Linked DNA regions of Homo sapiens: all the other regions are linked to region 1. Evidence: fine-mapped expression QTL. A gene starts in region 1. Each other region holds a variant in brackets. All regions are shown on one strand. Distances are between the middles of the regions. Region 1 holds the start of CDR2 (cerebellar degeneration related protein 2). Region 2 has its middle 41 kb from the start of CDR2-DT. Region 3 overlaps VWA3A (von Willebrand factor A domain containing 3A). Region 4 overlaps VWA3A (von Willebrand factor A domain containing 3A).

Region 1 (8,104 bases):
GCCTCCCAAAGTGCTGAGATTACAGGCGTGAGCCACCACGCCTGACCCTCAAAAACTTTAATTCTCCATATCTTTCTTTTCTTTTCTTTTCTTTTTTAAAGGAGAATTGTTGACTGGGCGCGGTGGCTCACACCTGTAATCCTAGCACTTTGGGAGGCTGAGGCAGGCGGATCACTTGAGGCCAGGAGTTTGAGATCAGCCTGGCCAACATGGCTAAACCCTGACTCTACTTGAAACACAAAAACTAGCCGAATATGGTGGCACATGCCTGTAATTCCAGCTACTCAGGAGGCTGAGGCACGAGAATCACTTGAACCAGGGAGGTGGAGGTGACAGTGAGCAGAGATGGTGTCACTGCACTCCAGCCTGGGCCACATGGTGAGACTCTGAAAAAGAAAAAAAAAATGGAGAATTGTTAAAGAACATTTCAATATGCATTTGAAGTCAAAATGAGCTTCTGTTTTCGATGGAGCAAACAGCGGGCACTTTGAACCTTGCGAATCAGTGATAAGAATCGTGAAGGGGGCCGTGCACGGTGGCTCACACCTGTAATCCTAGCACTTTGGGAGGCTGAGGCTGGTGGATTGCCTGAGGTCAGGAGTTCAAGTCCAGCCTGGCCAACATGCTGAAACCCCATCTCTATTAAAAATTCAAAAATTAGCCAGGCGTGGTGGTGGGCGCCTTTAATCCCAGCTACTTGGGAGGCTGAGGCAGGAGAATCACTTGAACCCAGGAGGCGGAGGTTGCAGTGAGCCAAGATCACGCCATCGCACTCCAGCCTGGGTGACAAGCGTGAGACTCTCTCAAAAAAAAAAAAAAAAAAAATGCCCCTGCATGATTCTAGCCCTTTAGCTTCCACAAATCACCATTGCCAATTATTCCTAAATCCAACTTGCTATCTTTCCAAAGGGTTCTATCTTTAGTGATTAAGATAGTTTGTTTGAAGTGATCTTATTTCAACTCTGAATATCTCGATGGACAACTAGGGCAGTAGAAGAGGCTTTACAGGACCTCACTTTCTTTTCTTTCTTTCTTTTTTTTTTTTTTTTTTTGAGACAGAGTCTCACTCTATTGCCCAGGCTGGAGTACAGTGTCACGGTCTCGGATCACTGCAACCTCTGCCTCCAAGGTTCAAAGGATTCTTGTGTCTTGGCCTCCCATGTAGCTGGGATTACAGGCTTGCACCACCACTCCCGGCTAATTTTTGTATTTTTAGTAGAGATGGGCCACCTTATTGGCCAGGCTGGTCTTGAACTCCCAACCTCAGGTGATCTGCCTGCCTCAGCCTCCCAAAGAGCTGGGATTACGGCATGAGCCACTGTACACAGCCTTTTTTTTTTTTTTTTTTTTTTTTTTTTTTGAGACAGGGTCTTGCTCTGCTGTCACCTATCATAGCTCATCGTAACCTCAAACTCCTGGACTCAAGCAATTCTCTCACCTCAGCCCCCCAAGTAGCTGGGACTACAGGTGTGCCAGTAACATTTTGCCTTTTTGAAGAAAGGGATTTGTGAGTTTACCATTCCTCTTTTATTATTATTATTACTTTCTAACAGTGTTATTCCTTCTACATTTTTTGCTTGGCATCCTACTGTAAGAAAGTTTTCTTTTCTCTCCCATTTATTTATGTCAGTATGGACTCATGGATTCTTTCCTTTTTATTCAATGGGTTATAATCCATTACTATGATTATTTATTGTGATGCTCATAATTGGTCCTCAAGGGTACCTGCACTTCTACAGTATAGGTCACAAGAACACAGCCTTACATTTAAAATGAGCACAAAATACTTGCTTTCAGGGTCTCTCTGATTCAGATAGCTCTGTGAGCAAGGCAAACAATCATCTTTCCTGTAAACTGTTTGCTAAAAGGCTTCTCTGCTGGTACTGAGTATGGCGAGAACTCTAGGTTTTCTCACTCTAGGTCCCTTGTGCTTTCCACTCTATTCAGCAGTCTCCTTTAAGGACTGAAGGGTAAAACTTCAGGTAACAACTCCACAGTGGGAGGTCTTGTCCTTGGCAAGACTTCTCCAGAGTAGCCTACAGCCTATGTGTAAGGTAACCCTGGAGTCAAGTGCTGTTTGATACAGCATCAGCGTGAGGTTAGGTTATGCTGGTTTGAGCAAAGATGGGAGGCAGAGAGACACCCTGAATTTTATTACCCACAAGAATTATTCAGGATGAGTTTTTCCCCCCTTCCAAATTACCCAAGTCTTTTTTTATACAGAAAGACAAAAAAAGTAGCTTGAGTCTATAATTCCTTCCCTACAATTTCCCTTATTTTTAATGTGCAAGTAACTAAAAAAGCAAGATCACAGAAGGGTTTATAACAAAAAGCCAAAGTCCCCAGCCTCAAATCACTCCTCCTCTTAGGAAAACTTTTTTTTTTTGTTTGGTTTTTGAGACGCAGTTTTTGCCCAGGCTGGAGTGCAATGGCGCAATCTCGGCTCACTGCAACTTCCACCTCCCGGGTTTCAAGCAATTCTCCTGCCTCAGCCTTCCAAGTAGTTGGGATTACAGGCATGCGCCACCACGCCCAGCTAATTTTGTATTTTTAGTAGAGATGGGGTTTCTCCATGTTGGTCAGGCTGGCCTCGAACTCTCGACCTCAGGTGATCCGCCCGCCTCGGCCTCCCAAAATGCTGGGATTACAGGCGTGAGCCACCGTGTCCAGCCTCGGAAAACTCTTAATTGCTTCCCATTTTTAGTTCTGGCAGCTCTCTCCATATTTGTGGAAACTATTCATTGGATTATCAATGTAAGGTATTATCTGTCGACTCACTTCTAAAATAGATCAGGATTTAACACTCCTCTCCACCTCTTCCCTCTCTCTGAATTTCTAACAGTTTATTACCTCATGTTCTAGAGATAATCTTTCAATTGTATACTTAAACCTCGATTTTTTTTTGTTTCGTTGCTCAAAGTTAGTTAGATATTGGCCCTGTTGTCTTCCATCAGCTGCACCTTTACCTTTACGTCAAGGTTGAGAACATTGACCTTCAGGTCTGTCATCCTGCTTAAGAGTTTCCGTGCTTTGTCTGCAAGATGGTGCTTAAAGCTTTACCTAGGAGCAGTATTTGCTGGGTTATGTCGGTGGAGGACAGCGTGCTCTGCCTCGCTGGCTACTAAGTGCTGGAGCTGCAGCCTGTCCCCTCCAGGTGCAATGTCACGTCCCCAGATGCTTAACTTGTGGTCTAGGGGTACCTTTTAAAAATCGTTGCAACACTGCTTACAATTTTCGCCCTCCAAGTGGACAGCTTCGGGCATCCCTCACCGCCCCAGATTCTCAAGGGGGTCTGGTGCCCACCGTTTTATGTAGCGTGAGTTTAATTCCCAGGGCTCAGATGTCAAGGAGACAAGAGCTACCGCTCAGTGGGCGTTTTCTCAACCCAAACTCCCGATCGACCTCGAGTCTCCCCGCCGGACCCGGAGCAAATCTCAGAGTCAAGATGCGAGAAGGGGTGGCCGGGCGGCGGACCTCAGGCTTCCGGCACCCTTGCGCTTCCCGCCGGCACGAAGGACTCCCCTGGACAACCGCCCGCCTCTCAGAGGCCGGAGTCCTAGGCCCTCCGGCCTGCGTTGCCTGTCCACAGACGCGCCGGCCTCGGGACACCCACCACAGGGGTAAGACGCGCCTCTGCCAGCTCCCCAGCCCGAAACCCAGAACGCCCTCCTAGGAGCCTCACAGCGCAGATCAGGGGACGGGCTTTCGGCCGCACCCCTTCACTCTTTCCCCGCCTTCTTTGTTTATTCCGGACCCACCATTGGCTGCTTGCCCTCGATACCGGGCGAGCCGCCGGTCTTTGGAGAGAGGCGATTGGACGAAGTCCCTGCCGCTCGGCCAGCAGCCCGCTCGCGATTGGTTGAGGCGCCGCCGGGGGTTTGAATCGCATCCCCGGCCGGGGAGGGTTCTGCCAAAGTGCCACGTTGGGCCCGGCGGCGGCGTGAAGACTGGCGGCTGCGTGAGACTCCGGCTCCAGGCGTTCGCACCGTAATGCCCGGCCGTTGGGGCCGTCGGTAGGCGCGAGGCGAGTCGAGGCAGCCGGCCGGTCGGCGGCCGCCGGCGGGAACGGGGCTGAGGCGGCGCAGCGGAGTCTGGGCGGCGGCGCGTCCCGCCCGAGGGCGGCTCTGGCTGAGGGCGGAGGGGCCGGGGAAGAGCCCGGGGCAGCGGCTGAGGCGGGACGGCGGCGGGGGCCGCTGCCCCTAGAAGACCCAGCCGAGATGCTGGCGGAAAACCTGGTAGAGGAGTTTGAGATGAAGGAGGACGAGCCGTGGTACGACCACCAGGACCTCCAGCAAGGTGAGGGCGGGGGCGCCCCGCGGGCGGGCGGCGGCCTGGCCCGGGAGGCCCCCGCTGCGAAACTGTTAAAAAGTTGCTTTTTGTGGCGGCGGAGGATGCAGGTGCCGGGAAGGGCTCAGGCTCACCTGGCGGCTGGGCCGGCCGTGCCCGCGGATCCCGCCCGCAGGAAGCCTCGGCACGGGGCCCACGGCCTTGCTAATGCGCAGTTGAATATCAGCCCCGAGGCGCGTGGGGGCCAGGGACGAGCCAGGCACCGTTTTAAGCGCTTTCCGTGGATTAGCTAGTTTAATCCTCACTGCATTCCTCCGAGGCAGACCCGGGTGAGCCAGTGTGTCCCGCAGTAAGTGGCATAGCCCGAGAAGCCGCCCCGTCGCAGGCTGTCTAGCCCAGCGCCTTTCATGGCCAGCGTGGAGGGCCGGCTGCTGCAGGTGGTAGTTGTTTTGCGGCGTAGCGGGAGCTGTGCGCTCCGCACCGTAACTCCAGGAGACAGTAACTTTTTAAAAATTAATGTTTGAGGGTACATGGTAGGTGTATATATTTGTGGGGTACATGAGATGTTTGGATACAGGCACGCAGTGTGAAATAAGCACGTGATGGAGAACGGGGCGTCCATCCCAGCATTTATCCATTGAGGTACAAACAATCCAATTACACACTTTTGTTATCCCATTTTCCATATGAGGAAAGCGGAGATTAAAACGGTAAAGTGGCTTGCCTAAAGCTAAGTGTGGGAGGGAGTGTTTTTTGAACCCACACACTCAGAAGAAGAGTTGTAGTCACTGCTCAAACCCCATCTCTTCCTTACCATCCTAGTTTACAGTTTTTTTCAGTTGGGCGTTAAGCTGTTAGGCATAGTTCACCAGATGCCAATTGAAACGACAGAAGAAAGAGCGCATCTATCTCTGCCACTTTTCTTCAGTTTGCACGCCAGCTTTCACTTAGAAACAGGCCTGCCGATGGTGTCTCCAGAGAACAATCGTAGAGTAGCCCACTCTTTGGGGCCAGTGGGGCCCCTGTTTTTCTTATACTAATAGCAGGAGCTAGCAGTTGGGGAACACTTTTTATGTGCCTAACACTGATAGGCCCATAACACAGTTGCTCATTTAATTCTCCCAGTAACACAATAGAGGTAGTAATGTTGGGGAGTGCTAGGGTTCTCCTTAAGACTCCAGAGCAAACGTTCTTAACCGCTATACTGAGTACTGAACAATCCTCAGGAATTTTTCCAGGCATCTTCAGTTTCTGCAATTCTGTGTAAATGCTCTCAGCTCTAATCTTGCAATGAAAATTAACATCTCATTTAGTTGAATATTAAATGATCATGTTGCTTGTTCATGCTAACCACTGAACATGGCAGAAGAAAAGAATGTAGACCTGAATAACTCAGAAAAGGAAAATAAAATGAGCACCTCTTTTGGAGGAAGATAATTTCTTAAATTAACATGCAATCACTTTAACCAAAGTAATTCACCTTTATTACACTTACAGAGTCCAAGCTACTTAGTGGTTGCAGTGCAGTGTTTGGCACCATCTTCTTTATGTCCAAGAGACAAATTTATTATACATATTAACAAACCTGTTTTCAGATTTCCCCGTAAGGATTGATGGCCTAGTTTGATAGTTTCTCCAGGATTTGTGAGGCAACCACTGTACCACTGCAGTACTTCCCTATAATTTAATTTGTATCATCACAACTAAATATTTCTCTTTCCTGTATTTAAGAAGCATTAATCTTTAAGGGCATAGAGGGGGCAGGTTCTTTTTTCTTGTGTTTCCAGCATCTAGCATAATACTTGGCACATACTGGAAGCTCGATTTTAATATTTGTTGAACTGCACTGAAGCACTCGCACAGAATTGTTTTCATGGCTCTCTTCCATCAGGTGCCTTAGTCCACGCTGCATTCTCCCGCTGTGGGAGGTTGTTAGGAACAACAGCTGTAACACTTCAATCTACCGAGCAGCAAGTGCAACGTGTCAGGGTTACACGAGGAATTCTCTTTAACCTCTGATCAAAATAAAGTCATCAGCTCTTCAAGTTTAACCTTAAAAACACAGGTCTGGGCTGGGCGCAGTGACTCATGCCTGTAATCCTAGCACTTTGGGAGGCCGAGGCGGGCATATAACCTGAGGCCAGGAATTCGAGACCAGCCTGGCCAACATGGTGAAACTCCATCTCCACTAAAAATACAAAATTAGGTGGGTGTGGTGGCAGGCCCCTGTAATCCCAGCTACTCGGGAGGCTGAGGCAGGAGAATTGCTTGAAACTGGGAGGCGGAGTTGCAGTGAGCTGAGATCGTGCTATTGCACTCCAGCCTGGATGACAAGAACGAAACTCCCTCTCAAAACACACACACACACACACACACACACACACACACACATATCTGAACCTCTTTACTGCCAGTTGCATTTCTGTGTTTTTCAAAGGGCTGTTACGTTATCACAGTGGACTTTGACTTAACCCTCTGTGTCATAACCAACTATATGGAGTACGAGTAGAAGATGTGAAATTCCAACAATTGTAACTTGTGAATATGGCCTGTCAAAGAATAAAGGCTACAGTGTGAATAAAAGGGTATCCTTTCCCCAGTTTTGCTAAGTTATATGTTAACTCCTAAACTTTTAACAGATTTTAAAACTTGTTCATTTCTCAAAAATGTATTATCTGCTCTTTGCCAGGTATTCGCCTGGGCCCTGGGGCCACAGCACCTCCCCACATGAGTGGATAGGTAGGATTCCTACTCCCATAGAGTGAATGTTCCAGGAATCTGTTCACTAGAGAAGCCTGGAGGTGCCGCCTCATGGGATGTGCCCACTACAGCGCCTCGTACATTGTAGGCCCTCAGTAGACACTTGCTGCTGAATTAAGTTTGGGAGCAGGTCTGTCCTGTTAAACAGATTATTCAGCAAGTCTAGTGGGATTTTATGTGCAGGCATCTGTCCGTTTTTTAACATCCTCATTATTATTACTGAGCAAGGCTTATTTGGAGAGAACTGCTTAAAACTTTTTTTTTTTTTTTGAGGTGGAGTCTCGCTCTGTCCCCAGGCTGGAGTGCAGTGGCACGCTCTTGGCTCACTGCAATCTCCGCCTCCCGCGTTCAAGCCATTTTCCTGCCTCAGCCTCCCAAGTAGCTGGGATTACAGACACGTGCCACCACACCCAGCTAATTTTTGTATTTTTAGTAGAGACGGGGTTTCCCCATGTTAGCCAGGATGGTCTCAATCTCCTGACCTCGTGATTTACCCGCCTCGGCCTCCCAAAGTGCTGGGATTACAGGCGTGAACCACCGCACCTGGCTGGAAAACAACTTTTAATGATCCTGTTCTCAGTATCTTACAACTATAGAATGTTTTCCTTTAGCAGTAGTAAGCCATGCTCTGAATAGATTGAATCTTTGTATCAAAGTTTCCTAGGGTATCCGTTTTTAAATTGAAATTGCTGGAAATTTCTAACCTCAGTAAACTCTGGTCTACTATTCATACCTTGTTAGAAACATGTAAAGCTTTTGTGTAGGCAGGAGGAGAAAACCCTTTGCTGTTACAAAACTCTTTGATGAAGAGACTGTCTTTTGTCAGAGAGCTGAGTTGGCTCAGTAGGAATACTGACAATAATCTCTGTGGGTAAGATCTTTTCTGGGACAGCAGGAGCCTTCAGTGCAGGTAATGATGGTGCTTGCTTTGAAACATGCCCCTGAGAACAAGGTGGAAAGACTTCAGAGACTGGATTTTCTTTTAAACCAGCTGCTATTGTCATTTGGTGAGCTGTGCAAACTTAGAATAAGGATTCAGGTTTCTGTTATGTGGATC
Region 2 (8,104 bases), 42 kb before region 1:
CACTACACACAGCTGCACCCGGCAAGAGCAGACAAGGATGGTCTACTCACTGAGCCTGCAAGGCTGGTGTGCAGGACAGGCCAGCTACACTCCCCAGGTGTGTGCAAGACCGGGGACGAGTCAGTCATTGGGAGGTGAGGTGCTCGGGCAGTGTGGGATGGAGGAGGAGGGAGGGAAACTGAGTGTGGGCTCTTCGTATTGGAGAGGAGGGGACGGCCATGGCACAAAGACTCAGATGGGAAAGTGTGAGAAAGCAGAGATTTCAAAGGAGCTACGGTGGAGACCCACAGAAGAGGAATGCTGAGGCTTTTCTGTCTGAAATGCTGAATAGACTCTAGCACACGCAAAACAGCCCACCACAGCGAGCTGCAGGATTCTTCCGGGCTTTTAACAGTGGTCTTGTAAAAAAAATTAGCCGGGCATGGTTGTCCCAGCTACTCAGGAGGCAGAGAGGGGAGGATGGCTTGCGCCCAGGAGGTTGAGGCTGCAGTGAGCCATGATCGCACCACTGCACTCCAGCCTGGGTGACAGAATGAGACCCCTGACTCAAAAAAAAAAAAAAAAAAAAAAAAAAAAAAGACTGGAACATTCAAAACCTGTTGATGGGCTCAAGAAATTCTCAAGAAATTCTCTTGCCTCAGCCTCCTGAGTAGCTGGAACTACAGGTGTGCACCACCACATGTGGCTAATTTGTGTATTTTTTGTAGAGACAGGGTCTTACCATGTTGCCCAGTCTGGCCTTGAACTCCTGGACTCAAGGGATCCAATGACAGGCGAGAGCCACCATGCCCAGCCACATTTTTGCTAAATTCTTTACACTGGTGAATCTCAAAGAATTCTCTGATCATCACACCATATCCTGCTAAGTGTGCAATTAACCTGTGGACTTCAGTTGGACACTTTCAGATTAGCATTAGCTATGTGGGGCCACCAAATGCCAACTGTTAAATTATCACTCAAAGATAAATGACACTTGAGTGTGCTGTTTGAGTTTATACCTCTAAAAAATGCTTATAGTACCATGAGACTAGTGTGCCAACGTGTCTGGCTGCCAACGTGTCTATAGCTGAGCCAATAAGAATTAGTCTCTAGAGCCTCTGTTTCCAAGGAAGTCAATCTCTAGATTCCCACATTGGCTGCATGATGGAATAAGCCAGGGGCTACGAAAAATACTGATGCCTGTTGAAGCTTGGAGGAGCTGGGGTTGGGGTGTAGGGCAGTGATGATCACATATGAATAGAACTGGGAGTCTTTAGTGTTACTGGTGGCAATGTTGAAATGCATGAGGGTTGTTTATTGTATAATGAAGTATTTTTCACATGAAGTCATATGAAGTATTCCATTCCACTGTATTTGTTCTTATTTTAACGATACAACTAGGTAATAAAGGAAATGAAGTATTGTTTTATATTTTAAAAAAACACATATGCCTGGATCTCACGCCCCAGACATTCTGATTTAACTGGTCTAGGGTATGGTCTGGGCATCAGGACTTTTTCAGGCTCCAAGTGATTCTAATGTGCAACAAGGTTGAGAACTATTGCTTTAGGGCCTTCGTGTTCTTTGAGAATACAAAGAAAATTCAGAGAGATAGGTTAAAAACACACTTGCCATTCCTCCATTGCTCTGACATCTATCAGCAAATAAGCTATAACAGGAAATACAGGGCTTTGGGTCTTTTCTATTCCAGATTCTGTTCCTGTCCTCTTTTAGCCACCAGGGTTTTAATTTTATTTATTTATTTATTTATTTATTTATTTATTTATTTGAGACAGAGTCTCGCTCTATTGCCCAGGCTGGAGTGCAGTGGCGTGATCTTGGCTCACTGTGACTTCTGCCTCCCGGGTTCCAATGATTCTCTTGCCTCAGCCTGCTGAGTAGCTGGGATTATAGGCACGCACCACCTCGCCCGGCTAATTTTTGTATTTTTAGTAGAGACAGGGTTCCACCATGTTGGCCAGGGTGGTCTCAAACTCCTGACCTCAGGTGATCTGCCTGCCTCAGCCTCCCAAAGTTCTGGGATTACAGACATGAGTCACAGAGCCCAGCCTAATGACTGATTGATTGATTGTGACACAGGCTCTCACTCTGTTGCCCAGGCTGGAGTACAGTAGTGAGATCATAGCTCACAACAGCCTCGAATTCCTGGGCTCAAGTGATACTCCTACCTCAGCCTCCCAAGTAGCTGGGACTATGGGCATGTGCCACCACTCCCGGCTAATTTTTTTTTTTTTTTTTGAGACAGAGTCTGGCTCTGTCACCCAGGCTGGAGTGCAGTGGCGCAATCTTGGCTCACTGCAAGCTCTGCCTCCCGGGTTCACGCCATTCTCCTGACTCAGCCTCCCGAGTAGCTGGGACTACAGGCACCTGCCGCCATGCCTGGCTAATTTTTTTTGTATTTTTAGTAGAGATGGGGTTTCACTGTGTTAACCAGGATGGTCTCGATCTCCTGACCTTGTGATCTGCCTGCCTCGGCCTCCCAAAGTGCTGGGATTGCAGGCATGAGCCACTGCACCCGGCCAGTCCCAGGTAATTAAAAAAAATTTTTTTTGTAGGAATGGGGTCTTGCTATGTTACCCAGACTGGTCTCAAACTCCTGGCCTCAAGTGATCCTCCTGCTCTGGCCTTCCAAAGTGCTGGAAGATGAGAGCTACAGATGAGAGCCACCACACTTGACCATCACCAGGGTTTTCTACTACAATATTGCTTGAGGCTTTTACTGCTACTTGGATTTCAAGCAATGTCCCCAGTTCAGGTGGAAAACAGTCACCTCGAAAATGGAGAAGATGAGTCTGAGGAAGAATTACATTCTACAGAAGAAATGCGGTCCAGGACAGTCCACATTCACTTCCTTCATTCAGATACTCATTTCTTAGCCACAATTACCCAATTTTGAGCCATGCTTCTATAATGAGATACCACTGAGTTCTGCGGTTCTAACTCCTTAATCTCTCATGTCAGTCTCCTCTTGCCTTCTGTCTTCCACTGCTTTAGGGCTTGGATTACATGCGTGAGCCACCACACTGGCCCCATGCACAATATTAACCAGTGGAACCAGCATTCCTCATATAAAATCACTTTGTTAGCCTTCTAACTGTTCTTTGCAATCCAGCTAACATCCCTTCAAAACACACTTCAGGGTAATCTTTTATTTTATTTATTTATTTTATTTATTT[A/T]TTTATTTTTTTTTTTTGAGACGGAGTCTTGCTCTGTCACCCAGGCTGGAGTGCAGTGGCACAATCTCAGCTCACTGCAAGCTCTGCCTCCCGGGTTCACGCCATTCTCCTGCCTCAGCCTCCCGAGCTGCTGGGACTACAGGCGCCCACCACCATGCCCGGCTAACTTTTTGTATTTTTAGTAGAAGCGGGGTTTCACCATGTTAGCCAGGATGGTCTCGATCTCCTGACCTCGTGATCCGCCCACCTCAGCCTCCCAGAGTGCTGGGATTACAGGCGTGAGCCACCGCGCCCGGCCTAATGTTTTATTTTTACTTATTTATTTTTTGAGACAGGGTCTGGCTCTGTCGTCCAGGCTGGAGTGCAGTGGCGCAATCTTGGCTCACTACAACCTCCACCTCCCGAGTTCAAGCAATTATTCTGCCTCAGCCTCCCAAGTGGCTGGGACTTCAGGTGCATGCCACCATGCCCGGCTAGTGTTTGCATTTTTTGTGGAGATGGGTTTTTACCATGTTGCCCAGGCTAGTCTCGAACTCCTGAGATCAAGAGATCTACCCACCTCGGCCTCCCAACGTGCTGAGATTACAGGCGTGAGCCATCACGCCCAGCCCAGGGTTATCTTTTAAAAGGCAAATCTGATATTATTACTTCTTGGTTTAATAATTATAATGCTCCTTTCCTTTTAGGATCAGGTCTACACTTCTCAAGCTCTACTACTAAACCATCAGCCATTCCTCCAATCATGTCCTACAACCTCATGCCTCTCTGTGCTTGCACAGACTCCCTGCTACTATGAATTTTCAAAATTCATTAGAGAGATCATTTATTTTCTCCTCAGTCTGAATTGTATGCTAAGCCAGTGGGCACTCCCTCAACAGCCCACACTTACATCTGTAATAGCACCTAGCATCCAACATTAAGATTCTCACTATAATTGACTGTGAGCTTATTCAGAGTGGGGGCTGCATCTTTTCCTCTTTTTCCTTTGGGTTTAGCACAGGACCTGGTACGTAGTAGGTGTTAATATTTGTTGAATGAATGCTGTATCATTTTACACATCTATGCGTTGCACATATGTCTATACTGTTTCTCTTCACTGGATACATCCAATCTCCATGCACAGTATTATTATTATAATTATTATTGAGACAGGATCCTGCTCTGTCACACAGGCTGGAGTGCAGTGGCACAATCATAGCTCACTACAGCCTCCAACTCCCAGGCCCAAACAATCCTCCCACCTCAGCCTAGCAAGTAGCTAGGATTACAGCTGTGCACCACCATACTCGGCAAATTTTTCAATTTTTTGTAGAGAGGGGATCTTGCTATGTTCCCCAGGCTGGTCTCAAACTCCTGGCCTCAAGGGATCCTCCTGCCTCAGCTTCCCAAAGCACTGGGATTACAGGCATCAGCAATGGCACCTGGCCCCATGCACAGTATTTATGCCTCCACTGAAACCTGGCTGAAGCATTTTTTTTTCTGTGAAGCCTTCCTGGACTTGGTTCCCAAGACAGTGATGATCATGCCCACCTTTTAGCCACCATTATATCTTATATATACTTCTAATCATAGTATCTACTATTTCGTGCTGCAAAAATCTCTCCTCATGTCTGTCTCCTTTACTAGATTGTAAACAGCTAGTTGCAGCAACCTATTTTATTTATCTTCATATTCTGAGCACTTATGATATAGTAGGCAACTAGTAGTTAAGCCTTCATTTTTCCATTTAGTAATTAAGCCTTCAGTGCTTCTTTTACACTATAAACAGATTGTTCTAAAACAAAATTCAGATCATGTTTTTCTTTCTTTCTTTTTTTTTTTTTTTTTTTTGAGACAGAGTCTTGCTTTGTTGCCCAGGCTGGAGTACAGTGGCACCATCTCAGCTCACTGCAACCTCTGCCTCTCTGGTTCAATCGATTCTTGTGCCTCAGCCTCCCGAGTACCTGGGACTACAGGCGCATGCCACCACGCCCAGCTAATTTTTGTATTTTTAGTAGAGATGGAGTTTTGCCATGTTGGCTAGGCTGGTCTTGAACTCCTGGCCTCAAGCAATCCACCTGCCTCGGCCTCTCAAAGTGCTGGGTTACAGGTGTGAGCCACTATGCCTGGCTCAGATGATGTTTGTCTCATGCATTCAAATCTTCAGTGATTTCCCTTTACCTAGAGTGGTCTTTCCCAAAGTACAGCATCTGGACCCCTGCTGGCACACATGATAATTTTTACATGATACATAATAGTTCTTTTTATTTTTATTTTTTATTTTTTGAGATGGAATTTCACTCTTGTAGCCCAGGCTGGAGTGCAGTGGCACAATCTTGGCTCACTGCAACCTCCACCTCCTGGGTTCAAGCGATTCTCATACCTAAGCCTCCCGAGTAGCTGGGACTACAGGCGCCCACCACCACACCTGGCTAACTTTTGTATTTTTAGTAGAGATGGGGGTTCACCATGTTGGTTAGGCTGGTCTCGAACTCCTGACCTCAGGTGATCATGCCTTGGCCTCCCAAAGTGCTAGAATTGCAGGAGTGAGCCACCAGCCATTTCTTTTTATTTTACTGGCGTTAGAAAAATTGAAACCTACCAAATGAATGATTTTATGGTTGCTTTTTCTTATGGCAGTTAAGATTTGTTTTAAGTTAGTGATTTAAAATAAATTTAAAGAAAAATACTGAGTAAATATTAGTACATAGAGTACTCATATAACAAATGTCAAAAATTCATCATATTTGTGAAACCCTAATGTATAGGATTAAAAGCACATACATCTTCTAAATCCAGTGTACAGATCCTTCACATCATCAGCCCTGATTGACTTTTCGACTTCACCCCCTCTAGCTGCCATCAATTGTGCTGTAACTCATGTCACTAATCAACAGGTTCTTCCATGTGACTTCTCCTAACTCCTTTCAGTCTATTCGTTACACAGCACCCCAAGGGAGGCTGGCACCCCAAGGGAGGCTGTTAAAAAGTAAGTCAAGGCTGGGCGTGGTGGCTCACACCTTAATCTCAGCATTTTGGGAGGCCAAGGCAGGCGGATCACCTGAGGTCAGGAGTTCGAGACCATCCTCGCCAACATGGTGAAACCTCGTCTCTACTAAAATACAAAAATTAGCTGGATGTGGTGGCACACACCTGTAATCCTAGCTACTCAGGAAGCTGAAGCAGGAGAATCACTTGAACCCAGGAGGCAGAGGTTGCAGTGAGCCGAGACTGCACCACTGTACTCCAGCCTGGGTGAACAGAATGAGACTCTGTCTCAAAAAAAAAAAAAAAAAAAAAAAAAAGGTAAGTCAAATCAGGTAATTACCCCCGCTCAAAACTAAAAACTGTCCAGTCGCCATTTTTTCTGTTTTTTTGTTTTTTTTTTTAATTTCTAGGAGATGCATGGTTAACTATCAGGGGTGACATGCCACTAGATCTGCAATTTAACTTAAAATGGTTCAGAGAAGGCTGGATGCGGTGGTTCACGCCTGTAATCCCAGCACTTTGGGAGGCTAAGGAGGAAGGATCACTTGCGCCCAGGAGTTTCAAACTAGCCTGGGCAATCTAGTGAGACCCTGTCTCTACAAAAATTTTTAAAAATTAGCCAGGCACAGTGTCGTGCACCTGCAGTCCCAGCTACTAGGGAGGCTGAGTCAGAAGGATCCCTTGAGCACAAGAGTTCAAAGCTGCAATGAGCTGTTATTGAGCCACCGTACTCAGCCTGGGAGACAGAGCAAGACCCTGTCTCCAAAAAAAAAAAAAAAAAAGATATATAGGCTAGGTGTGATGGCTCACACCTGTAATCCCAGCACTTTGGGAGGCCAAGGCAAGTGGATCATTTGAGGTCAGGAGTTTGAGACCAGCCTGGCCAATGTGGTGAAACCCTGTCTTTACTAAAAATATAAAAATTAGCTACTCAGGAGGCTGAGACATGAGAATCGCTTGAACCCAGGAGGTGGAGTTTGCAGTGTGATGAGATCATGCCACTGCACTCCAGCCTGGGCGACAGAGCAAGACTCTGTCTCAAAAAAAAGGAAGAATGAGAAAGCACCTTATGTCATGACATGACACAAACTTCAACATATAAAGTGGCCGGGCACAGTGGCTCACACCTGTAATCCCAGCAACTAGGGAGACTGAGGTGGGAGGATCACTTGAGGCCAGAAGTTGGAGATCAGCCTGAACAACACAGCAAGACCCCATCTCTAAAAAAGTAAATAAATAAGTTTGAGGCTGCAATGAGCTATGATTGTACCACTTCACTCTCAGCCTGGGTGACAAAGCAGAATCCCATCTCTAAAAATAAAAATAGAAAATAAAAATAAATAGTCCAGAGAACAGAATATGCATACACACAGAGATACAGATAAACCAAATATGGTAAAATGTCAGCAATTGATGAATCTAAGAAGTGGGTATATGCATGTATTTTCTCTGTAATTTTCTTTAAACTTTTTTTATATTTGGAAAATTTTATAATAAAAAGTTGTGAGGAAAATAAGATGGTTTAATTGACAGAAGGATGGATACATTAATTAATACATGATAAAATTAATACAGTAGGTTATAAATAGTTGAATGTAGATTACTGTGTAACTTTTAAAACTTTTTTGTATATTTGAAAATGTTTGGCCCAGCATGGTGGCTCACGCCTGTAGTCCCAGCACTTTGGGAGGCCAAGGTGGGTGGATCACCTGAGGTCATGAGTTCGAGACCAGCCGGACCAACATGGAGAAACCCCGTCTCTATTAAAAATACAAAATTAGCCAGATGTGGTGGCGCATGCCTGTAATCCCACCTACTCAGGAGGCTGAGGCAGGAGAATTGCTTGAACCTGGGAGGCAGAGGTTGCGGTGAGCCGAGATCGCGCCATTGCACTCCAGCCTGGGCAACAAAAGCGAAACTCGGTCTCAAAAAAAAAAAAAGAAAAGAAAAGAAAAGAAAAG
Region 3 (8,104 bases), 250 kb after region 1:
CCAGCCTCCTGAGTAGCTGGGAGTACAGGCATGTGCCACCATGGCAGGTTATTTTAAAAATTTTTACAGAAATGTGGTCTCACTATATTGCCCAGGCTGGTCTCCAGGGCCTGCATTTTAACAGCATCCTTAGGTGCTTGTCTATACATTAAAGTTTGAGAAGCACTGGTTTAGAAATCATGCTGCAGAAACCTTGGCAAGGTATCCACCTGGGGGAAGACGGATGAGGTCGCAAAGGATAATGGACACCCAGGACGTGGCCTACCCACCATGTCCTGGTCGGGGATGCCCCCAGTGAAGAGGTAGATTCCCTGCGATTGGTGTTTGTCTTTGTCCTTGAAGTCTACTTCCACAGCCTTCCGCAGGGCGCTGAGAACGTTCCTGCTGCCCCGACACCGCAGGTTCAGGGCCCACCTGCGGAGGCAGAGATGGCCATGCTGAGGGTCATTGGCCCATGCCCAGGGCATACCTTTTGGGAGTAGCTGAGAGCCTTTTCCATCTCAGACGTGATGGAGTCGATGTCATCACTCTCATAAAGTGAAGATGGCCAGGTGGGGAGAGCAGCAGACAGAAGGAAGCTGTTTTCTGATTTCTGCCCATGGCTGTTTGGGGTCAGGGACTCTAGAGAGCTACTTCTTGGTGGAGAGGGGGACAGAGAAAACAATGCCTGCAAACCTTCCCTCAGACACAGCCCCACGAAGTCTCTGCCCATAACCTACCGCCAGGCACTTTGTAAATTGTTGTGACTCACGGGAACCATCTCAGGCCTCCAGCTTTCAATTGTGCTTCCAAACCTTTAAGAAGCAAAGAGAGTTCGTTCTTAGGCTGGGGGAGGTCCACTTGGTGGCCCACCTCTTTGGGCTTTGCAGGCTTTTAGTGGGGACAAAATTCTGATGAGATCCCCTAAAATGTGAGGATGTCACTGGCCTGGGCCAGCCATGAGATTTCCTTGTGGGTCATATGTCCCAACATACTTCAGCCAAGACACAGTGTGAGCCAGCTTTGGTCAGCTTCCTTTCTGAAGCATTGAGCTATGGCGTGTGGCCCCCTCTTTAACCTCCCCTAGCATGGCTTCTCTCACTGCACATTTCCCCTCCCTATCCATACTATAGTTTGTTTTTTTTTTTTAAATACACATCTATGTAATCAACAGGATTTGGCAAAGAAAAAAAATATACCTCTAGCCTGGGCAGTATAGCAAGACCCCATTTCTACAAAATAAAAAAAATTAGCTGGGTATAGTGGCACATGTCTGTCAACCTAGCTACTTAGGAGGCTGAGGTGGGAGGATCACTTGAGTCCAGGAGGCTGAGGCTGTAGTGAGCTATGATTGTGCCACTGCACTCCAGTCTGGGCAATGGAGTGAGATCCCATCTCAAAAAACAAACAAATCCTCAAATCCAGAAAACCCACATTGTCTCATTTGTCCTGTAAGACAGAATTTAAGATCTTTGAGAAGAGGATTTATACCCTTTATGAAGGAAAAGTTGTCCCCTCTCTAGTTTGAGATTAATTCCTCCACCTGGCCTTTGACCTCATCACCCATCTCTTCTGAGACTTTGCCCCACAGTTCCTCCCTCACATCCACACATTCCCAACTTCTCTCCACTTCCCTCTGCCCCGCGCCTCTCTACCTGTTTCAGACTCTCTATACTTAACAAGAACATCCTCCTTCCCCTGGGAAGCTACTCTATGAGTGACTTCGCTCTTTTCTCTTTCCCCTTGTGGACAAGCTCCCTGGAAACACAGTATACCACCACTTCCTCACCTCCTCAACCTATTGCAGTCAAACTTCCACCCTGGGGGCATTCCCTGGTAGAGATAAAGAATGCCCTCCATTCCCCCACCAGTGGAAATATATCCCTATTATCGTTGGATAATAAATCTGGGTCAAGTGATTCTTATGCCTCAGCCACCTGAGTAGCTGGGATTACAGGCCTGCACCGCTGAGACCCACTGATTTTTGTATTTTTAGTAGAGACGGGGTTTCACCACGTCGGCCAGGCTGGTCTCAAACTCCTGGCCTCAAGTGATCCACATGCCTCATCCTCTCAAAGTGCTGGGATTACAGGGGTGAGCCACCGCGCCCGACCTTCAGGTACTCCTTTAGAGCAGTGCAGGAATGGACTAACACAGCATCCCAACACCTTTCTCTCTTGTTTTCCTCCCACCTCTCTGGGTTCTTCTTTCTTGTGTTCTTTTGGTGGTTCCCTTCTTCTGCCCACCCTTCGAATGCTGGTGTCTTCCAAGTGCTGCCTTTGATTGTCTTCTCTCTCCTCTTCGCATCTCCACAGGTGCGATCCCTGCACTACCATTTATTTCATTCATAGAATCAAAATGCTGATGGCTCAAAACCCCTTATTTCTTGGCTAGGTCTCCTCACTGGAGCTCCTCCTCCTCTTAATGTCTCCAAACTCTTGAGTGTCTCAGACTCGGGATGTTTAAAACCATCTTTCCCTTCAGAGATCTGTTCTTCTTGGGACATCATCTTCTCTTCACCATTCTTTCACCCCCTACAGCCAGTGATGACATTCTGTAGATTCTAACTCCCCAAAATCTCTTCCATGCACCTCTTTCTTTCTTTCTTTCTTTCTTTTTTTTTTTTTTTTTGAGATGGAGTCTCGCTGTGTCGCCCAGGCTGGAGTGCAGTGGCGCAATCTCGGCTCACTGCAAGCTCCACCTCCCAGGTTCATGCCATTCTCCTACCTCAGCCTCCCGAATAGCTGGGACTACAGGTGCCCACCACCACGCCTGGCTAATTTTTTGTATTTTTAGTAGAGATGGGGTTTCACCGTGTTAGCCAGGATGGTCTCAATCTCCTGACCTCGTGATCCGCCCGCCTCGGCCTCTCAAAGTGCTGGGATTACAAGCGTGAGCCACTGTACCCAGCCTCCATGCACCTCTTTCTTGATTAACTTTTATTTTGGGCTCAGGGGTACGTGTGCAGGTTTGTTATATAGGTAAACTCCTGCCATGGGGGTTTGTTATATAGATTATTTCATCACCCAGGTATTAAGCCTAGTACCCATCAGTTATTTTTCCTGATTTCCTTTCTCTCACCCTCACCCTCCAATAGGCTCCAGTGTGTGTTGTTCCCCTTTATGTGTCCATGTGTTCTCATCATTTAGCTCCCACTTATAAGTGAGAACATGCTGTATTTGATTTTCTATTCCTGTGTTAGTTTGCTAAGGATTATGGCCTCCAGCTCCATCCATGTTCCTGCAAAGAACATGATCTCATTCTTTTTTATGGCTGCATAGTATTCCGTGGTATATGCATACCACATTTTCTTTATCCAGTCTACCACTGCTGGGCATTTACATTGATTCCATCTGTTGCTATTGTGAATAGTGCTGCAATGCACATATACATGCATTTGTCTTTATGACAGAATGACTTATATTCCTTTGGGTATGTACCCAGGGATGGGATTGCTACTTTGAATGGTAGTTCTGTTTTTAGGTCTTTGAGGAATCATCACACTGCTTTCCACAATGGTTGAACTAATTTACACTCCCACCAAGTGTGTAAGTGCTCCTTTTTCTCTGCTACCTCGCCAGCACCTGTTATTTTTTGACTTTAATATGGCATTCTTACTGGCCACGCACTCTTTCTTCCATTCACATTGCCTTGGCTCAAGCCCACTCAACACTAGGGCAGGCAATTGCAATAGTCAAACTGGTCTCTTCCCTCCAGTATTACATCCCTTCAGTTCCTCCTTCACAGCATTGCTTGAGCATTTGAAGACGCAAACCCGATTGTATTTGTACCTTGCTTGCAATCCTCCAGTGCCTTTATATCCTATAGCACAGGAAACTCGTGAGCATGGCCTATATCAATCCTCCATCACCTGGTATTTCTGTCATGCACAATCTCTCCCTCTCAGCCCCATATCCATGCTGAACTACCTGATGGTCCCTAAGGTTCTAGCATACGTCACACCTCTGCTCATGCTGTTGCCTCTACCTGGAACACCCTTTCTCCCTAGGACCCCATCATTCCCAGGTGCTAGGCAAACATCTACTTATTCATCAAGACTCAGCAAAAGGGGCACTTGCTCCATGAAGATGTCCTGAGCCTACTCCACCCAAGTGGAATGGACTGATCCTGCCACTGATACCTTGCAGTCCCATACCTAGCTATCTACTCATTTCTATAGAAAACGCTTAACAGCACTCCTTAACATCCCTGTCTCCCACTGTTAGGCCATGAGTTCCTCGAGGATGAGTTTTGTGTGTCTTCATGTCCATCTCCCCAGTGCCTGGCACAGGGACTGGTTCATGCAGATTGTCAATGAAACATTGCTGAATGAATGAATGGGTAAATAAATAAATAAAATTCCTTATCTATAATGTTACCATAAATATTTTTATATAGAGTTTATTAAGGAATGACTGGGCTCTGGTACAGAATAATATCTAATACTAACTGTTGACTTAATAGGTTTAGAAAATGCCCTATTTGGTATGAGGTTGTATAAAAACCTACACTTTAAGTGGGTTCCTTTTCTCTCTGTCTTCCCTTATTAGTTAAAATAGTATGCAATTTAAAAAACTATATATATAGTTTTTATGGCTGAGCTCAGTGGCTCAAGCCTGTAATCCCAGCACTTTAGGAGGCTGAGGCAGGCGGATTACTTGAGGTTAGGAGTTCAAGATCAGCCTGGCCAACATGGTGAACCCCATCTCTACTAGAAATACAAAGATTAGCCAGGTGTGGTGGTGTGTGCCTGTAGACCCAGCTACTTGGGAGGCTGAGGCAGAAGAATTGCTTGAATCTGGGAGGAGGAGGCTGCAGTGAACTTAGATCAAGCCACTGCACTCCAGTCAGGGCAACAGAGCGAGACTCCATCTCAAAACAAAAACAAAACCAAAAACAAACTA[T/C]ATATATAGTTTTTAAATTAAAAATGCTAGATATGTACTATATTTAATTATATATAAAATATAATTTTAAAACTATATTAACATTTTAAAACTATATATACTATATATAATTTTAAAACTATATATAATTTTGAAGTAAGTTCAAATCTTCAAAACCTCTCTGATCTTTGTTGTATTTAATTCTAAATTATACAGTTTTAAAAATTGCATACCATTTATATATATATACACATAATTAAATGTATACATATAATTTTATTTATTTATTAAAACACAGATGGGGTCTCACTATGTTGCCCAGGCTGGTCTCAAACTCCTGGATGCAAGCGATCCTCCTGTCTCGGCCTCCCAAGGTGCTGGGATTACAGGCGTGAGCCACTGCACCTGGCCAAATTTATATATACAGTTTTAATTTAAATTCAGAATTGGAATCCTAAATGTTTGAAAAGGTATGGCTTGCTGGAGACAGGCTGAGGACTGACACTAGGGCATGGCTGGGGTCCTTCCTTTCCTCTTCTTCCTATTTCATCTTGGAAGCCAAATGGGCCAATGGGCTGAATTACTTTATCCTGGTTGATCAAGCAGTGTGTTATGGGGTCACTTACCACCTTCGCCCCAGTAGGACAGTCCTGCAACTATTTAATTATTCAATGCCCCAAACAAGATCATCCAAATCAGATAAACCGATGGCTATCCTAGGAAGCCGGGTGACCATGACGTCAATATCTATCGTCCAGCAACGTCCAAAGCCTCAGCCCAATGACGGCATCCAAACACACACGACCCACCCTTGCCCCCAGGAGCCAGGAGACACATACGCGATGAGGTTGAAACAGTCCTTGTTGGATAACTGCTCCTCCAGCAGCAGCCGCAGGGAGTGCTGGATATGAATAATGTACATGGAATTGGTCGCAGAGATATCGAGCAGTACAACCACCCTAAAAGGAAACACGAGCTTTAAGAGGAGAACCGAATCTCTGAGATAATGTTTATTTTGTTCCATTTTACTATTTAAAGTTTTTTTCCAGGGGAATTTTGCATGCCAAATTCATAGCTGGCCAAAATCTTCTCTGTGGTTTGAGGCCAACGGATGTGGGCTTACAATGGTAGATTAAGGGGGTCATGGAAGCCCCCCTTCTCTCCCAGGAGGTGCTTTAATGGAATAAAGCCTCATGGTGGAGATGGTTTAAGTGGTAGGCGCTTCATATAATGATTTTCACAGATTTATTTTAAAGAATTAGCATTCAATATTTTTATAGGTCAGAATATGAAAAAATATATATGTATATTGCCTTAGGCAAGTCACAAATCCTCTCTGATCTTTGTTTAAGTAGTTTAACTATAAACTACTTGTAAGACTCATCATAAGGTTGCTTCAAGAACAAATATATAAGGCCGGGCGCGGTGGCTCACGCCTGTAATCCCAGCACTCTGGGAGGCCGAGGCGGGCGGATCACAAGGTCAGGAGATTGGGACCATCCTGGCTAACATGGTGAAACCCTGTCTCTACTAAAAATAAAAAAAATTAGCCGAGCGTGGTGGCGGGCGACTGTAGTCCCAGCTACTTGGGAGGCTGAGGCAGGAGAATGGCATGAACCCGGGAGGCAGAGCTTGCAGTGAGCCAAGATCGCGCCACTGCACTCTAGCCTGGGTGACAGAGCGAGATTCCGTCTCAAACAAAACAAAACAAAACAAAACAAAACAAAACACACACAACAAATATATATATATTTAGACGGTCTCTCTCTGTTGCCCAGGCTGGAGTGCAATGGTGCGATCGTGGCTCACTGAAGCCTCAACCTCCTGGGCTCAAGAGATCCTCCTGCCTCAGCTTCCCAAGTTGCTGGGACCACAGGCACACATCACCATGCCTGGCTAATTTAAATTTTTTTTTTTTTTTTGTAGAGACCAGGTCTGCCCATGTTGCTCAGGCTGGTTTTGAACTCCTGGCCTCAAGTGATCCTCCTGCCTTGGCCTCTCAAAGTACTGGAAATACAGGAATGAGCCACTATGCCCGCCATAGGTTGGGGTCTTCGTAGGGAAAACGAAAACCAGGTGAGCAAGTAACATAAGGAATTAGGTGTATCTGGGCCTCTTGGAAAATATTTTTATCTTTTTGTTTGCTCTCTTTCTGTTTTAAGATCTCTAGCCTTATTTGTTCTTTCTCTAATTTTAGAACTTCAAACTTATATTCCCACCTTCTGCCCCATTCTCATTTTGAGACAGCTATGGATAGCAAAAGAAAATCTATGGGATTTACAGTCAGAAGACCTTGGTTCAAGTTCCGCTTCCTACCAGCTGTGTGGCCTTAGGCAAGTCACAAAACCTCTCTGATCTTTGTTTAAGTAGTTTAACCATAAACTACTTGTAAGACTCATCATAGGGTTGCTTCAAGAACAAAATTACATAATAGATGTATAGTGGCCAGGTGCGGTGGCTCATGCCTGCAATCCTAACATGATGGGAGGCTGAGGCAGCAGAATCGCTTGAGGCCAAGAGTTTGAGACCAGCCTGGGCAACATAGCAAGACTCTGTCTCTAATAATAATAATAATAATAATAATAATAATAATAATAATAATAATAGATGTATAGTATTACAAAATATAATACTTTGTAAATGTTAATTCATCAAACAAGGTATGGAATCATAATAATGGCCATAATAGATAACTATTGTTTCTCCCAACTCAGCATCCATTACCTCATCTGGCAACAGCATCCTGATTTTCCTTTGGGAAACACCTCTGCCTCTATCAGTCAATTTGAGTTGTGTGAAGCTGAGCCTACTCCAAGCTCCAGGGATGGGCATTTGACCCTGGCCAATCAGAACATCACACCTCTGGCTGGGTGGGAGGATCTATTCATCCATGACCCATTTGCTCTGGCCAGGGAGGAGGTGTGATTTTTTTTTTTTTTTTTTTTTTTTTGTGGTAGACACAGGGACTTGCTCTGTTGCCCACGCTTGAGTACAGTGGCACGATCATAGCCCACTGCAGCCTTGAGCCCCTGGACTCAAGCGACCCGCCTGCCCCTGCCTCAGCCTCCTAAGTGGCTGGGACTACAGGTGTACACCACCATGCCCAGCTAATTATTTTATTTTTTGTAGAGACAGGGTCTCACTATGTTGCCCAGTCTGGTCTCAAACTTTTGGCCTCAAGCGATCCTCCCGCTTTGGCCTCCCCAAGTGCTGGGATTGCAAAAATGCTCAGTGACACAATG
Region 4 (8,104 bases), 220 kb after region 1:
CATGGTGAAACCCCGTCTCCACTAAAAATAAAAATAAAAAAAATTAGCTGGGCGTGGTGGCAGGCACCTGTAATCCCAGCTACCCTACTCGGGAGGCTGAGGCAGGAGAATCGCTTGAACCTGGGAGGCGGAGGTTGCAGTGAGCTGAGATCGTGCCACTGCACTCCAGCCTGGGCAAAAAGAGTGAGACTGTGCCTAAAAAAAAAAAAAAAATTGAGATGGGCCAGGCACAGTGGCTCACGCCTATAATCCCAGCACTTTGAGAGGCCAAGGCGGGCAGATCCCCTGAGATCAGGAGTTCAAGACCAGCCTGGCCAACATAATGAAACCCTGTCTCTACTAAAACAAAAATTAGCCAGACGTGGTGGCAGGCCCCTGTAGTCCCAGCTGCTCAGGAGGCTGAGGCAGGAGAATTGCTTGAACCCAGGAGGCGGAGGTTGCAGTGAGCCGAGATTGCACCACTGCACTCCAGCCTGGGCAACAGAGCGAGACTCTGTTTCCAAAAAAAACAAAAAAATGGATGTTTATCTTTTTCTTATTGAAATTCTTTATTATGGTATGAGTCTTTTAATAAAGTTTTATGTCACTAAAAATTTATGCACACACACACACGCCAATGATCACTTCAAACAGTTAAAGTCATGTTGATCCTATTAGTAGAATAAAATTAATTGTTTTTAATTTTAGAAAATGAACCCAGATGAGCAGCCTTCACTTCAGTTTGGTTGGGCAGGGATGGAGGGTGGTGCTGAGGCTCACTTGTTTCTTCTTCCCCCAGGATGGGCTGACTGTGACTCTGCATTAGCCTCTTATGAACCAGGGTGGAGACCACCCCATCAGCTGCTTTCCAGAGCTAGGCTCTCACAGCTCAGCCGCCTGCTCACTGTTCACCATGTGTCTCCTATGTGGCAGCTTCTGGGGACCTGCAGATCCTGGGACACCAGTCTCATCCCGAAGGAGCTCACCATCAAGGAGAAGAGTTAGATCAGCGAGCAAGGTGGCGTGACATAGAGTGCTGAGTGCGAGAGGTCTGCGTGGTCAGGATGCTGCAAGAGAAAGACTGGAGGCCCCTCGCTCTAGATAGGTCCCAGGGAGCTGATGTCATTTGAGCTGTGCCTTGATGGATGAGCAGGAGTCTCCAGGCAGAGGGGGCAAGAAGCACCGTTCAGGCAGGGGGTTGGTTTGCAAGAAGCACCACCATTTAGGCAGGGGGTTGGTTTAGGGCTTCCCAGAGAGGGACAATCTAGTGGCTGGAGAGTAGAGTGCGCTGCGGGACAGGGCTGGAGAGTTAGATTAAGACCCGGGAATGGCCCCTCACACAAAAGACAAAGTCTTTCCTTCCTCAGCTTCCAGAGAGTCCTGGTACCAGGAATCATGTTTCCTGCAGGTCACAGCATTTCATCCCATCCTGCCCTCGGGGCTGAGATTTGCTCAGTGAGTGGTCCTTTGCAGGATGACTTTTCTGTTTAGAGGAATCATTATTTTTTAACCAAAGTTATTATTGACCACAAAATAGAGCATGCCACTTGGTGCTTAGTGCACACTCAGGTAGTATGGGGTCTAGCCCCTCCCCTTACCTGAGAACACTTCTCTAGGAAAGAGTGACCTTTGGTTCTGCATCATTTTTCTTCTGGAGTTGGGATCTGGTGGGCAGGAGATGAAGAAAGATGGTCTCCCTGGTGCCCAGATTTCTGGGCTGGCTGGGAGAAGCAGGGCAGGAACCCTTGGAGCAAGGGTACCATCATGGGTGCGGCCCTTCTCGATGGGGTCCGGGGTCTGCATGGGCTGTAGCCACATGGCAGGCCGGAGAGGCTGCGTGAAGGGCATACCTGAAGGATTGGGCCTGCCAGAGGAAGCTTCTGGCCTTGGTGATCTCCTGGGCCAGGATCCTTAAATCATCTCCTTCAAATGGTGGCAATGTGGGATCCTTGAAAAGAGGAAATGAGTGTGAAGTTTATGACTGGATGGGAGCTGAAAATCCAAAATCTCAGGAAAAGCATTTTAGAGCTAATCACGTTCTGGTTTCCATCCAGTGCAGGAAATCTTGTGAGCCTCTGCTTGTATATCTCCAGGGTCAGGAAGCTCACTACCTATCAAGACAGTCATTCTGCAAAGGGGAAACTTTGAAATATGGTGTCTGAGAGTCAGTGTAGGGAGGGGACGGTGGCAAAGTACGATGGTGTCAGAATCTGAGTGAAAGTGGCCCCACTCTGGTCCAGTGGAACAGAAATGACACCGTTTCCTTATCTCAGCGCTATTCAGTAGAATCTGTTCAGCCATTTTTTGCATTTCTTCTAGTGAAGTAGACTTACAGGTATGCTTTTTATTTGGTTGATTTTAGAGACAGAGCCTTGCTCTGTTGTCCTGGCTGCAGGGCAGTGGCGTGATCACGGCTCACTGTAGCCTCGACCTCCTGGGCTCAAGCTATCCTCCCACTTCAGCCTCCCAAGTAGCTAGGACCACAGGCATGTGCCACCACACCTGGCTGAGGCATGCTTTTTTTTTTTTTTTTTTTTTTTTTTTTTTTTTTTTTGAGACGGAGTCTCGCTCTGTCGCCCAGGCCGGACTGCGGACTGCAGTGGCGCAATCTCGGCTCACTGCAAGCTCCGCTTCCCGGGTTCACGCCATTCTCCTGCCTCAGCCTCCCGAGCAGCTGGGACTACAGGCGCCCGCCACCGCGCCCGGCTAATTTTTTGTATTTTTAGTAGAGACGGGGTTTCACCTTGTTAGCCAGGATGGTCTCGATCTCCTGACCTCATGATCCACCCGCCTCGGCGTCCCAAAGTGCTGGGATTACAGGCGTGAGCCACCGCGCCCGGCTGAGGCATGCTTTTTAAAAAAAATGTTAACTAATAAAATTTCGCCACCTATCCTTAAAAATACATCTTACCAATCCCAGCGCTTTGGGTGGCTGAGGCGGGTGGATCACTTGAAGTCAGGAGTTTGAGACCAGCCTGGCCAACATGATGAAACCTCATCTCTACTAAAAATATAAAAATTAGCTGGGTGTGGTGGCAGGCACCTGTAATCCTAGCTACTCGGGAGGCTGAGACATGAGAATCACTTGAACCCAGGAGGCAGAGGCTGAAGTGAGCTGAGATCATGCCACTGCACTCCAGCCTGGTGACACAGCAAGACTTCATCTCAAAAAAAAAAAAAAAAAAAAAAAAGAAAAAGAAAAAAGAGGAAGCCATCCCTTCTGCCTGGCAGTAGTAGCACAGCAATCCCATTCTGCATGCAAAAACAATTCAGAGAATCTGATTGGATAAGGAATTAAGCTGAGAGCCTTAAACATATCATCACTTGTTTTCCTGTGTAATAAGGACGCTTGGGTGAATATTCATTACTTTTACCAATTTGTTCAGTTCTCTGTATTATTTATAATACTTGTCCCTAGAAGAGCTAGTTGAACCAAAGGAGTCATGTAAGGCTACCCAGGCTTCAAAGATTATGCCAGCCGAGCCTGACGGTTCACACC[T/C]GTAATCCCAACACTTTGGGAAGCTCAGGCGGGAGGATTACTTAATCCTAGGAGTTTGAGATCAGCCTGGGCAACATGGTGAGATCCTGTTTCTACAAAAAATTAAAGAAATTAGCTGGGCGTGGTGGCACACCTGTGATCCCAGCTACTCTGCAGGCTGAGGTGGAAAGATTGCCTGAGCCCAGGAGGTGGAGGCTGTGGTGAGCTGTGATTGTTCCTCTGCACTCTAGCCTGGGCAACAGAATGAGACCCTGTCTCAAAAAAAAAAAAAAAAAAATTATGCCATGTCCTGTGAAAGTAACCTTTAACCTCTGAAAAGAAATCTGGAATTCTGATTGGTTGTCTTACTTGATAATTTGTTGCGCTGGGAATGTTATCACTGACAACATTGCATTCCTAAAAGGTATAAATAAGTGCAGAATTTTCCTATTAAGTCAGAAGTGGATCATTGAAATCTATGACTTTACTAGACTTATTACTTAATAGATAACCTATGACTTTGCCAGATCTATTGCTTAACAGATAACTTGAATGTCTGTATTTCAATGAATTGAACCCCAGAAGACACAAATATGCAGGAATTAAAGCACAAAGTTTAAGATCATGGGTGTCTTGGGGCTCTAGCTATACCACTTCCTCTGACTAGTTTTTATTGTTGTTGTTTGTTTGTTTTGAGACGGAGTCTTGCTCTGACACTCAGGCTGAAGTGCAGTGGCGCAATCTCGGCTGACTGCAACCTGGGTCTCCCAGGCTTAAGCAATTCTGCCTCAGCCTCCCGAGTAACTGGGATTACACGTGCATGCCACCATGCCTGGCTAATTTTTGTATTTTTAGTACAGACGTCATTTCACCATGTTGGCCAGGCTGGTCTCAAACTCCTGACCTCAAGTGATCCACCCACCTCGGCCTCCCAAAGTGATGGGATTACAGGTGTGAACCACCGTGCCCAGCTTTAGGTGTATTCTTAAACCTTGCTGGCCCTCTCGTTCACCTGTTAAATGGGTATAATATTAAAAGAGGTTATCTACATAAAGCCACATAAATTTCCAACAAAGGCAAACTGGCCTGACCATCAGGAAATATAACACCCTCAAATCCTGCTTCTTTCCCAGCCTTGAGGAGAGTCAGCCTAAAAGGACAGCAGCAGGGAAACCCAATCCTTTTCAGCTAATATTTTGTCTCAACGAAAAGCAGAGATCTTTTTCGTCAGAAGGAAAACCCAGGATGGGCGTGGTGGCTCATGCCTGTAATCCCAACATTTTGGGAGGCCGAGGTGGGAGGTTCACTTGAGCCCAGGAGTTCAAGAAGGAAAACCCCATGCCTGTTGATATTTTATCGAGCCGTTTCAACAGACCTCATGCTCAGTGGCTCTGCAACCTACCTTTTCATTGATGAAGCCTTTGGTCAGCAGGCTGTGAATTTTGGAGAGTGTGTCCTCACCCACAGGGCAGTGATAGCGTCCGCCGGTGAAGGAAGCCAGCTTTCTCAGGAACTCAACCGCCGCTCTGGAAGGAAGGGACAGAGGGCTGGTGGGAAGGCTGACTGACCAGGCAAGTTCGTGTGACTCCCCACGTCCATGGGGAACTTAAGTCCGTGGGGCTTAAGAGAAATCAGCCTGGCAATGGGCCGTGGCTTGTCCCATGGAGACCACCATTAGAGGACACTTTCCCCACCAGCTTCTGGACAGCTATAGCAACTGCTGCTGCTTGAGGGAAGAGGAGTCCCCGTGTGAGTGTCACCATTTAGCCTGGACCCCCTGAAACCACACAGCCCACACACTCCAGCCCCCATTTCTTTTCTTTTCTGAGACAGAGTCTCAGTCTGTCACCCAGGCTGGAGTGCAGTGGCACAATCTTGGCTCACTGCAACCTCAGCCTCCCAGGTTCAAGCGATTCCCCTGCCTCAGCCTCCTGAGTAGCTGGGACTACAGGCACCTGCCACCACGCCCGGCTCATTTTTGTATGTTTTTAGTTGAGACGGGGTTTCGCCATGTTGGCCAGGCTGGTCTCGAACTCCTGACCTCAGGTGATCTGCCTGCCTTGGCCTCCCAAAGTGCTGGGATTACAGTCATGAGCCGTCGTGCTCAGCCTAGCCCCCATTTATTTATGGGACATTTATCCAGTGCCTACTATGTGTTAGGCCTGTAAAGGACACACATATTACACTTATGGGGCTCATGGTTTAGACCAAGAGATAAAATGTGTCCCTATGCAGTCTGTTTTGCTAATAATAAAGTTTTTTTTTTTTTGAAGGAGCTGAGTATGTCTTATCTGACATGTGTTCTTTTTCACATTTTTATTTTGTTTTGTAGAGATGGAATCTTGCTATGATATCCAGGCTGGTCTCGAACTCCTGGCCTCAAGTGATCCTCCCACCTCAGTCTCCCAAAGCACTGGGATTATAGGCATGAGCCATTGTGCCCGGTCATAGCACATGGTCTATAGTGATCGTTTATAAAAAAAAATAACCATGACAATGCTACATTAATATTTTTCTCTCTGGCTTTTCCCCTAAATGTCCCCTAAATATTCACAAATGTGATCCCAGGGAAGAGTAGGAGGGAGACTGTAAAATGACTGTGTGAATCCCTTGCAAATGTGTTTCCAGGCTGGAGGAAGTCAGAGGGAAATATCTGGGTAAAGAGAGGGGTTTTCACCCTGTGGTGTGACACCGGCTTGGGCCGTCTAGAAAAACAATGCTTCTCCTAACTTCTTTCTTTTCTTTCTTTTTTTTTTTTTTTGACAGTCTCACTCTGTTGCCCAGGCTAGAGTGCCATGGTGCAACCTCCGCTGACTGCAACCTCTGCCTCCCTGGATCAAGTGATTCTCACGTCTCAGTCTCCTGAGTAGCTGGGATTACAGGCGCCTACCACCACACCTGTCTAATTTTTGTATTTTTAGTAGAGACAGGGTTTCACCATGTTGGCCAGACTGGTCTTGAACTCCTGACCTCAAGTGATCCACCTGCCTCAACCTCCCAAAATGCTGGGATTACAGGCGTGAGCCAGCATGCCCGGCCGCTTCTCCTAATTTCTGATTTACAGGATTAGGGCCCAGGAGAAACCCGTGTCTAAGTGAGCAGCTAGATTAGGTGAGGGGCTTGGATCTCCCTGCTGAGATGTGTGGCTGTGGAAAAAGAATAAAACTCAGTCAGACTCCATATTGCGCACCTGTCTGAGCAGTTCAAGGAAATGGTGTGCACTTTCACATCTCTTTTCTCCCTGAGTTTTTGGACTTCATTTAGGACAAGGCTGCAGCTTGTGTCTGGCTTTCCGTCGGTCAGGAGGTACAATCCTTCCAGATCATGGAAACTGAAAGCTTTCTGAAAGAACGCAGGAAGGCTGTCAGGCTCAGGGGAGAGGCTCACCCAGAACACAAGAACCAAATGCCTAAAGGTAGTGCCTGCTGCCGCCTCTGCCAAAATGCATCTGATTGGATGCCACTGACCTGTTCAAAAAGACTGAGATTCTCTTTCAGCCTCAGACAGACTAAGGAAGCTGCTGAGGTTTAGGAGAAATAGCATGGTTCACTGCCTAGCTGGTTAATCCCAAGCAAGTCACTTAACCTCTCTGAGCCTCTGTGTCTTCATCTATTTTTTTTAATTTTTATTTTTTTGAGATGGAGTTTCGTTCTTGTTGCCCAGGCTGGAGTGCAATGGTGCAATCTCGGCTCACTGCAACCTCTGCCTCCCAGGTTCAAGCAATTCTCCTGCTTCATCCTCCCAAGTAGTTGGGATTACAGGCATGTGCCACCACGCCCGGCTAATCTTTTGTATTTAGTAGAGACGGGGTTTCACCATGTTGGTCAGGATGGTCTTGAACTCCTGACCTCAGGTGATCCACCTGCCTTGCCCTCCCAAAGTGCTGGGATTACAGGTGTGAGCCACCGCACCCAGCCTGTGTCTTCATCTATAATGTGAGAACATTGAGAATCCTTTTCTCACTCGGGTGTTGGGAAGATGAAATGATGTAGTGCTTTGTAAATTATAAAGCGCCCTTTGTAAATCCTAAAGCATCGTGCAGCATCAGCATAGGGGATGATGGTATTTGTTTTGCGTCAAGGTCGGGCTCCGTGGTGGGACTTGCCAGCAATGCTTGCAAGATGGAGGTGCTGCCCTGAGCTTGCAGGTGGGTCACCCATTGCATAGCCTCATGACACGCTGCATCTGTGGTCTCCACCAGCGTGTCCTGCCATGACTGAAAGCTCTCTGCAAAGCTGAGCAGGTTAAAACTGGGGAGGAGGAAAAGAGGAGGTGAGGGGCAGAGAAGGGGAGAAAGAGATTGGTTAGAACAGGCCTGTCTAGATTGAATTCAGATAAGTTACCCTCATGAGGACTATTCTTGCTCGTCACTGAAGACCCCTACAACGAGCCCTGTGGCCCCTCAGGGAGAGGGCTGTGGGGCCTCTTGAGAATGAGAGGGTACACACTGACAATTTGAATGCAGACAGAAATAGATTTAAATCCCAGCCCAAGCCAGACACAGTGGCCTGTGCCTGTAATCCCAGTACTTTGGAAGGCCAAGCTGGGAGGATTGCTTGAGGCCAGGAGTTCAAGACCAGCCTGGGCAACATAGTGAGACCCCCATCTCTACGAAAAAGATTTTTAAAAAATTAGCCAGGCATGGTG

The links. PIP is the estimated chance that this variant, and not a neighbour inherited with it, causes the effect.
Region 2: its variant is fine-mapped to the expression of CDR2 in whole blood (INTERVAL, PIP above 0.99).
Region 3: its variant is fine-mapped to the expression of CDR2 in whole blood (GTEx, PIP above 0.99). The same link has a PIP of 0.9 or more in lung.
Region 4: its variant is fine-mapped to the expression of CDR2 in whole blood (INTERVAL, PIP above 0.99).

The regions. Positions count from the first base shown.
Region 1 is chr16:22,370,423-22,378,526 of GRCh38, reverse strand. It overlaps CDR2 (cerebellar degeneration related protein 2), which reads left to right and starts at 3,908. Exons shown (of 5, transcript NM_001802.2): 1 at 3,908-4,296. The coding sequence starts at 4,218. CDR2-DT (CDR2 divergent transcript) reads right to left here and starts at 3,640. Exons shown (of 3, transcript NR_148970.1): 1 at 3,304-3,640; 2 at 2,967-3,200; 3 at 347-386. RefSeq lists enhancers at 3,136-3,185, 3,526-3,605 and a silencer at 4,146-4,375.
Region 2 is chr16:22,411,989-22,420,092 of GRCh38, reverse strand. It overlaps the pseudogene RRN3P3. Among named protein-coding and RNA genes, the nearest start is that of CDR2-DT, 41 kb to the right of the region's middle. The variant A/T (reference allele first, on the strand shown) is at 3,177.
Region 3 is chr16:22,123,895-22,131,998 of GRCh38, reverse strand. VWA3A (von Willebrand factor A domain containing 3A) reads right to left here. Exons shown (of 34, transcript NM_173615.5): 17 at 5,702-5,821; 18 at 720-794; 19 at 270-414. Among named protein-coding and RNA genes, the nearest start is that of SDR42E2, 35 kb to the left of the region's middle. The variant T/C (reference allele first, on the strand shown) is at 4,884.
Region 4 is chr16:22,149,390-22,157,493 of GRCh38, reverse strand. VWA3A (von Willebrand factor A domain containing 3A) reads right to left here. Exons shown (of 34, transcript NM_173615.5): 29 at 7,563-7,707; 30 at 6,648-6,799; 31 at 4,860-4,983; 32 at 1,830-1,927; 33 at 1,578-1,643; 34 at 530-1,462. The coding sequence ends at 1,592. Among named protein-coding and RNA genes, the nearest start is that of SDR42E2, 9.1 kb to the left of the region's middle. The variant T/C (reference allele first, on the strand shown) is at 3,479.